2 separate regions of the Homo sapiens genome follow, and region 2 is linked to region 1. A link means that fine-mapping ties the variant in region 1 to the expression of a gene that starts in the linked region. Tissue or cell type: prefrontal cortex. Region 1 holds a variant in brackets; the other region holds the start of a gene. All regions are shown on one strand. Distances are from middle to middle.

The links. PIP is the estimated chance that this variant, and not a neighbour inherited with it, causes the effect.
Region 2: it holds the start of PROKR2, and the variant in region 1 is fine-mapped to the expression of PROKR2 in prefrontal cortex (ROSMAP, PIP 0.95).

What each region holds. Positions count from the first base shown.
Region 1 is chr20:5,431,898-5,436,059 of GRCh38, reverse strand. LINC00658 (long intergenic non-protein coding RNA 658) reads left to right here. Exons shown (of 5, transcript NR_038240.1): 3 at 1,655-1,888; 4 at 1,990-2,271; 5 at 3,422-4,103. Among named protein-coding and RNA genes, the nearest start is that of LINC00658, 12 kb to the left of the region's middle. The variant G/T (reference allele first, on the strand shown) is at 1,770.
Region 2 is chr20:5,314,489-5,318,650 of GRCh38, reverse strand. PROKR2 (prokineticin receptor 2) reads left to right here and starts at 1,697. Exons shown (of 3, transcript NM_144773.4): 1 at 1,697-2,157.

The DNA.
Region 1 (4,162 bases):
GTCTATTGTTAAAAACTCAAACAAAATGATACGGGCTATAGGCTGGATTACAATTCAAGGCTATGGACATACACAGAAGAATATTATTAACATTGATTTGACTTATTAACAGCAAAGGTATTTAATTTTCCGAAAAGATTTTCAATTGACCAACTTAAACACTTTATTCTCCAAGCATGATCTACACAGTTTGAGAAATATAATAAGAGAAACTGATAAGGTTTTTTCAGCATTGCAATAATCACCTTAGCTCTTACCTGCCTGTTTAATCCTTACAATAACTCTAGGAGGAATATGCTGTCTCCATTTTAAAGATGAAGAAATTGCAGTTTAGTCGATTGCCCAAGTTTGGACAGTTAGTAAACAATAAACAAAGATTTGAACTTGGGAAGTGTGAATTCTATACCCACAGTCTTAACCCTATGCTGCACACATACCAACATTAACAGCTGAAAATATTCCCAATAACTGAGTTGACTGACTTGCTATATGCTGTTATCAGCAACATAATAGTTAGAAATTGATGGCAGCTATTATGAATAAGGACTTTTGCTTTAGACAAGTTGATTTGTAGATTATTTTTCTGGCAGAAATTTGAAACCAGAGAACTGTTGACTATTGGATATCCTATGATTTTTTTTAATAGAGACGGGGTCTCACTTTGTTGCCCAGGATGTTCTTAAACCCTTGGGCTGACGCAATCCACACGCCTCAGCCTCCCAAAGTGCTAGGATTACAGGTGTTAGCTACCACACCTGGCTATTTTTTAAAAATCATAAAATGTGTGAAAAAATTACCATGTCAGTAAAAATTCCCTTCACACCAGAATTTGGCATAGTGTAGAAACAGGTTATTATTGAACTTAGAACATCAGGTTTTTGCCTGAAAAATTATTTCTACTTATCAAGAAATGTTCTTGAATGGAAGTGAACATTATGTCCAAGGCACTGACCTTTCATAAAAATAAACTGGAGAAAAATGCTTTTTTGAAAATAAGGACATTGACCTCACTGTTGGCTACTCTTAATGTGTTGTGTGTGAAATTCTGATTAAAGTATGATAACATTTCAAAAGTGTTGCTTAACCTAGTATACACTTTCAAGATATAATCTTTGACTGAGGAAGACTCAGTCTAGCGAAAGTCTTTTCTATAATGTGAACATGACTTTCAGACGAAGATGGTGATGGTACCATCAATATTTTGCCTTAAGAAACTTAAGAACTTAATACAAAAAATTTAAATGTACTCCCTTTAAGGGAAAGCCACCAGCAATTTCTAAACTTAAAGCAGGAAGATGAAAGGATAGAATAAATTGTGCCTTATATTCTACAATTCCAGAAGAAACATGAGCCCAACTCCGGGGTTGCACACAGTCATGCCAGTGTGATTTGGGGAGGAATCCTGAGGCTCCAGCCCTGGGCTCCAAGTTTTGATCCCTCAGCATTGGGTACAGAAGGCAGATTGATGCTGCTGGTGTGGAATTTCCTGGGGCCTGACTTCACTAACTCATCACATCTCATCATTCTTCCGTTCTCTCCTCTCTGAGTCCTTTTCTTCAGCTGTTGCACCATTTCTACTTTGTTCAGAGGGATAATGCTGGAAGGTATAGGATGTCAAGTTCACTCTGCTTTTATTTTTTATTCCCTTTGGCAGACAGTTGGCATCTGTGTGAAGATGTGAATGGAGGAGGCAGAGTAGGCAGTGAGTGCCGCAGCCACAGCTTGTGTTCTCTGCAGCCCTGGCACAGAAGATAGGAACACTCATGGGG[G/T]ATGCGGCCACTGTGATGTCTTCCCACACAAGAAGTGCCAAGTGCTTTTCTCATGCTTTTCTGGATTGTCCCATGGTGGACGAGTCAGCAGGAGTGAGATGGAGCAGCACAGTAGAGGGGTACCTGGCAAGGCCCGGAGGGAGGACCCCCTGCCCCAAACATTTCAATGATATCAGGTGACAGCCGTGATCCTCTTAGCACCTGCTCTGTTTTGTCCCAGGCCAGGATATCGTTGTACATATTCTCAGCTAAGTGAGCACCAATAGAGGAGAGGGAGAGTCTCATGGAAGTTCCTTCTAAGCCTTTGGCTCTTTTTACCTTCAACAAGGTGTGCCACCTCTTTGATCCAGCAAGTGGGAAGAACAGTCCCGGCCTCTTTGCACACAAGACCGTGATACCAATGCACCATCACAGGCCCCACAGGGGAGCTGTCCGCTTCCCCACACAGCTGCTAGGGGCTCTTTTGCATGTTCCCAACCTTTCCTGCCTTTATCTGATATTCGTAAGTACAATTGTAGAAAAGGGAAGGGCTTTACTAGTCAGCAAGTGTCAGCAGGTTGAGGATCCTCTAAAGGCATCTTGGAAAATCAAGGAAGGAGACACATGCCTAATTCCTATGCTCTGTTACCCTGGCCTCCAGCAAAGTCTACCCTCATATCAGAGAGACCCATTGTAGATAAATATGGGCTGCCAAAAGCAAGACAAGCCTTGGGCAAACTGCCCAACAGATGGTTCAACTCTGTGTGTACCAGCCAAGGGCCAACGTGTCAGACAGTAGCTTCTGTTTGTGCCTTAAGTCGGAGTTGTGAATATAAGATAATTCCGGGATGGCAGGGATCCCACAGTTATGGATGTGGGATGGTTTAGTTCCATCCAAGACAAACTTAGGACATCCTCTTTCAGGGGTTTGAATACACAGCTTTCTCTGCTACCCCCTCAAAGCGTTGGCCACCAGAGCGGAGTGGTTAGAAGGGTGAAGGGCTTTAGACAGGAGGGAAGGAATGTCCTTGCATGGCTTACAGGATGGGGACCCTAGCCAAGATCTTGGTGCTTTGGCCTGCAGGCAGCATCAGAAGCCAGCCCAGGGAGTGGGGCAGTGGCCTTGTACAGAGGGCTAGTGGTGGCTAAATTTATGTGTCAACCTGACTAGGCTAAGGGATACTCACACAGTGGGTGGAACATGATTCCTAGGTGTGTCTGTGAGGCTGTCCCCTAGAGGTTGGAATTGGACTCAGTGGATTGGGTGAAGATCTGCTCTCACCCGTGTGGGTGGGCACCGTCCAATCCACTGAGGGCCCGAATAGAATAAAAAGGTGGAGGAAGGATGAATTCACTCCCTCTACTTGAGCTGGGACATCCATCTTCTCCTTGGACATCTGTGCCCTGCTTCTCAGGCCTTCAAATCCTGGGACTTACACAGGCTCCCCCACCCCCTGTCCCCCCAAGGCTAGTCCGATTCTCACTCTGTTGGACTTGAACCAAATTACACCACTGGCTTTTCTGGTTCTCCAGCTTGCAGCCAGCAGATGGGAGTACTTCTCAGTCTCCATAACCACATGAGCCAATTCCTATAATAAATCTCATAGCTATTGATCTATAACTATTTATTCTCTGGGAAACCTTTACTAATACAGGGCTCTTGTTTCCCTCAGGTTCCTTAGATCCTGGGATGAGGAGGTGGACCAGCAGAAGGTGGGCTTGTGAAGGCAGCCCGGGGTCCAAATCCTCCTGGCTCTTCAGCTTAGCGGGTTAGTTAACATTCAGAAGCCTTCATCTCCCATCTGCAAAATGGGCATGTCCAACTCAGAAGCTGCCTTGAAGAAAGGGTCTACCCAGCATGGTGCGTGGAGCCTAAGCAGTCAGTACTTCAGGACTTCACCCGGCCCCTTTCCAATAACTGCTGCTGTCGCCCTCACAGGATGTCACCTTCAGCGTCTGAAAGCTGGGTTTGATGCGTCTGGAAAGGCGTCCCTGACAGGCGTCGTTGCCAGGAGCCCCTAGTGCCACCAGCAGCCAGCAGGGGAGGGCGTCCTCTGCCCGCTCACTTCTGACCCTTCTCTCGTTGCACCCGGAACATGGTGCAGCTGGGAGCAGCCTGGGCTGCGCGGAAGGCTCAGATTTGGGGACGGCCCTTGCCAGTGACTGTGAGCTGGGGTGTCTTGGAAACTCCCAGTCTCAGCTTCTCCATTTATAAGATGAGAATGATCATACCAGACTCAGGCAAGGTTGTTTGTGCATTAGTGAAATCAGACGTATTAAATAAAGTACCACATTGATCGTGGAGTTGTTGAATAACCAAGAACACGCCTATCTGTCTCCAAAAAATAAATGTTGAAAATGATGAGGGCGTGGCTCTACGTTGGGAAGGGAAATAGGGTGCTTGGATGAGAGAA
Region 2 (4,162 bases), 120 kb after region 1:
GCCTGAAGCTCTCTTCTTTTCAGCCTTGGGCTTTCTGCACCACACCGGGACACAACTCAAAAGTGAGGGAAATTCTGGCTCTCAGGGAATCTGTCCATCAGTAGGGGGTAGGAATCGATGGCTGAATGTCCAGCCTCCCCGCGCTGCTGTGAACAACCATGAGGCATGTTCTACACGGTCTGCAGGTCAACTGGAGTGAGCCGCAGTGGCACCCTGCTCGTTAGCATATCGTGTATGGGCCCTTCTCCCTTCCCTGCCTCACTTCCCCTCCCCCTGTGTGTGCTTCCCGGGATCTGCTCCCAATAAACTACCTGCACTCAGGTCTTTGTCTGGGAGTCTCCTTGGGGGAAACCTAAACTAAGACAACTCCCCGTAGCACTCTGTTGCACTGTTTTCTAAGCACCCACTGTCTCCCTGGGGACCACATGTCCATCCCCAGAAAAAGCTCCTACTCTGCTGAGGGTGGTCAGGACTTGGAGTTACTACAGCGACATCTGTGGGTCGCCAGATCTGTGTGGAAGCAACCATGCCTTAACTCATCTCAGAGGATTCCATGAAAGCACCAGCGGGCAGATGGTCCCAGGGGTCTGTTTGCCCCCATTGAATAGGGCAGGCATGGTCCATGAGCGAAGAAGCCTCTAGCTGAAGTTGGTAAGTATGCACTATTGCAAAGAATGTGTCCAGGGCGTACAACTGGCCACCCCATCATCTCCCCCACTCAAGCAACAGAGCTTTTTTGCCTCCATATCTGGAAGTTGCCCTGAGCATGTAGAACACCTGCCCAATCGCAGCCCCTCCCCAGGAGGAAAGCAAACAGCTGGCTCTCTTGCCTTTGATCATGCGGGAGAGATGCTAAGAGGTAGGGAGAGTGGGGTCAGGTTCCAGGTAAGGTGGGAAAAGCAGAATCACAGAATGTCACAACCTGAAGGAGTTTGAAGTTCATTTATCCAAAAATTTTTAATTGGCAGCCTTGTGGACTGTGTTCAGTCTGAGACAGGTTCTCTTTGACCAAAACAAGATTTTTGCTTTAACGAACCCAAAGACTATTTTTAAAGTTCTCGAATTCCAGATTCTCTTGAAAACAATGGGAAGCTCTGACAAAGTGGAGTCCATGTTCCCACCTGCCAATAATCCGCTGGCTGGGGTTTAACGATGGGGAACACCTTTTTAGACCTTCAGGGTCCTGCCACAGGTTCAATCCTGTATGCCCAGAGCTTCCTGGGCACCAGTCATTTGAATGGGCAGTTCCTGTGTTTAACCAGGAAGGTCGTGGGAGGATTTCGAACCTGTCAGAAGCAAAGTGAAGGGCTCCAGACTCTCCGGACAGATGGGCTGAGGCACTCCTGGGATTGTCTTTATACGGCCATGGAATCTGATAGTGGTGGTCATCGCAAAGTTTGGGTGAGGACTTCAGGGGCTTTGAGCAGAGCAAACTGTCCCCATCCCCAGCTTCCTCCTGGGGGCCTCCTCCTTCACCGCCATCTCCAAAGGCCCACACCGCACTCGTCGGAGCCGGGCTTTCCTTGAAAGGGTCACCTTCTAGTGGGCGCGGACGCTGGCACTGGGCACCTCCGGAAGACAGGACTCTCCCCTCCTGCGCGCGCGACCCGGGTGCGGTGCCACGACTGGCGGCAGAGGGCGGTGCTCACTGTTCCCAAGCGCACGGTAGAAACCCGGCTACTGTGTGGTCCGATTCAGACGGGATGCGAAGGCGCTGAAATCCGTGCGAGAGGCTGCCCCCGCTGCCGGGGACTCGCGTCAGCGCGGCCGGAGCTACGGTGCCCGCGCCCTGGACGCACCAGCCCGAGAGCACGCGGTGGGGTGGGGGAGCTGGGCATCCACCCTTGGCCTGGACTAGGAGGCAGGCGGGGACCCCGGGGCGGAGTCCAGCGCGGGGCGGGGCGCACAGGTCCGAGACGCTGGAAAGAGCTGTGGGGCCGGAGCGCCAACTCCAGCTGGAACCCAGAGACCCTGACACGCCGGAGGAGCCCGCCGGGGCGAGGAAAAAAGAGGGACATCCCCCACGCAGCGGCTCTGCAAGTGCAAGTCCGGGTCCTCGAGGTGAAAACCGAGCGGCCCGCCTGCGCCCAACCACACTGTGACTCTCGATCCGGCTTCCGGAGCAGCAGAGCGCACAGAAAGGAGGCGCCGAGACAGGTAAGGGCTTAGATCCCTGCAGTCCCGGGACTCAGTCGGTGCGGTGGGGGAGTCGCTAGGACAAGGGCCTCTGACGCCCACTTTTTTCTCGGGCATTCCGGCTGCTTTGCCTCCCGCCACTCTCGAGATATGCGTCGGGGCTGGCTCCAAGCAGGCGAGTTGGTTTCAGGAGATCCCCTCTGGGCCCTCTAGGACCGGGTAGGGTACGGTAAGCGGAGTCTGTGGTGTGCGGGCGCGGGCAGAGGGAGCCAGCGGGTAGCTGAGCTCGCGGACGAGCTCCAAATTGCAGGGGAGGGTGCAGGTAGAGGGGCACCTTCCTGAAAGGTGAGCAGGAAACAGCAAGCGTCCGTGGGGAAATTCCCGCGCACCGCATCCTCCACCCACCCGCCGTTTTCTTCCAGCCAGGAGGCACCGCAGCCTTTGCTTCTAGAGCCTGAATTTCTGACTTGATTCCTGTCTTTGCCAGGATGTCGCCTCTAGACGCCGACAGTGCGGCCGCGTTGATGGGGCGGGAAGGGGGCTGCTGGAACGGGTCGCTCCCGGGCGGGGAGTGCAATCTACGAAAATGCGGCTGGGACCTGTCCCAGCCCGGGCGCGCGCCCTCTTGTCTTGGGTTAGGGGGCTGGAAAGCCGAGGAGGGGTAGGACTCCCCATTCTTGGTCCCACGCTGAGCAGAGGCTGCGGGGATTGGGGTGTCGCATGAGACGGAGGGGCGACCTGGAGAGAAGACACCTCCGGGTGTGGACGCCACTGGGATTTGCATCTCGCCTCTTGGAGGTTTTCACCTTGGGAAAGCAGCTGGCGGGCGCACCCCAGGTTAGGGTGTCTTTTGCTGGCGCGCAGTTCCTGTCCCTCGGCGTTCTCCTCCCCTCGCAGGAGTGGACCAAATGCATTGTTCAGCTGGGTCATCTCCTTGCTACCCAGCATCCCGCGGCGCCCACATGTGGAGTCGTTTCCAGGTGTGCTGAGAGGCGAGGGGAAGGCCACTCACAGCTGGACAGCCAGGGCCCCTTTCTATAGGTGTTGGGATCTGGGCTCTTTTTCCAGCCCCTCGGTGAAGCCTTGTACCCTGGGGTGCCCTATCTCCTGCGGGCTGAGGGCTTCAGAGACTATTTTCCCTATTTTGAGACCTTGGTGACAGGACATGGTGCCTTTCAGGCAGGGTTGACTCTGGGTGGAGAACTAGGGCCAAGTGAAGGAGGTCAGAGAGCAGATCCAAAGTTGGAGTAGGGTGGGAAGGGCGGCAGAGGATTTCTTTCTGGAGCTGGTTCCCACAGAACGGGGAGCAGCAGGGGAATTCCCCTCCCCCACCCCACCACCACCTCCTCCACCTACAGCGCCCTGGTCATGCACTCAACAGATGTCTGTCTAGCCCCCACTATGCACCAGGCACTGGACTGGGCAGCAGGAATTTGGTTTACAGGAAGATTAGGACTCAGAGAGCATAAATCACTGGCCCAGGGTGACTCAGTCTGTCCATGTGAAAGTGAACTTGGTGATTTCCAAGTCTATGGCTTGGTCAGTACAGAAGGAGTGGTGTCCTGCTTTGGAGAGAAGACCCCGCAGCATCCTGGCCCTCCTGCTTCATTGTCCCTGGCCAACAGGTGCCACAACGTTGTGACAGCTGTAGGAGCCTGGCCAGCTCATGGGAGCATCCTTGGAAATGTTCCAGAAGCCCCTGTGGGAGCTGATGTGTTGGGGGCTGGAGGATGTGACTGGGCAGACAAAGAGGCCCTGGCCCCTGGGCAAAGGGCAAAGGTGCACATTCTTCTTGAGAGTTCTGGACAGTCTGATCCATCCTATGCTGTCCTTCCTGACAGCTGGGCAGCCACGGAGGGTTTCCCAACTTACAGATCTCAGGTCTCCTCTCCCCGCATCCCGGGTAGTTCCATCTGGTTAGGCAGTGGGTCTGGTTGGCCTATACTTGGGGAACTCAGGGAATGTGACCAGATGTTCTCCTGCATGTTGCCCACTGGTTGTGCCTCCTTCCAGGATCCAGGACGGT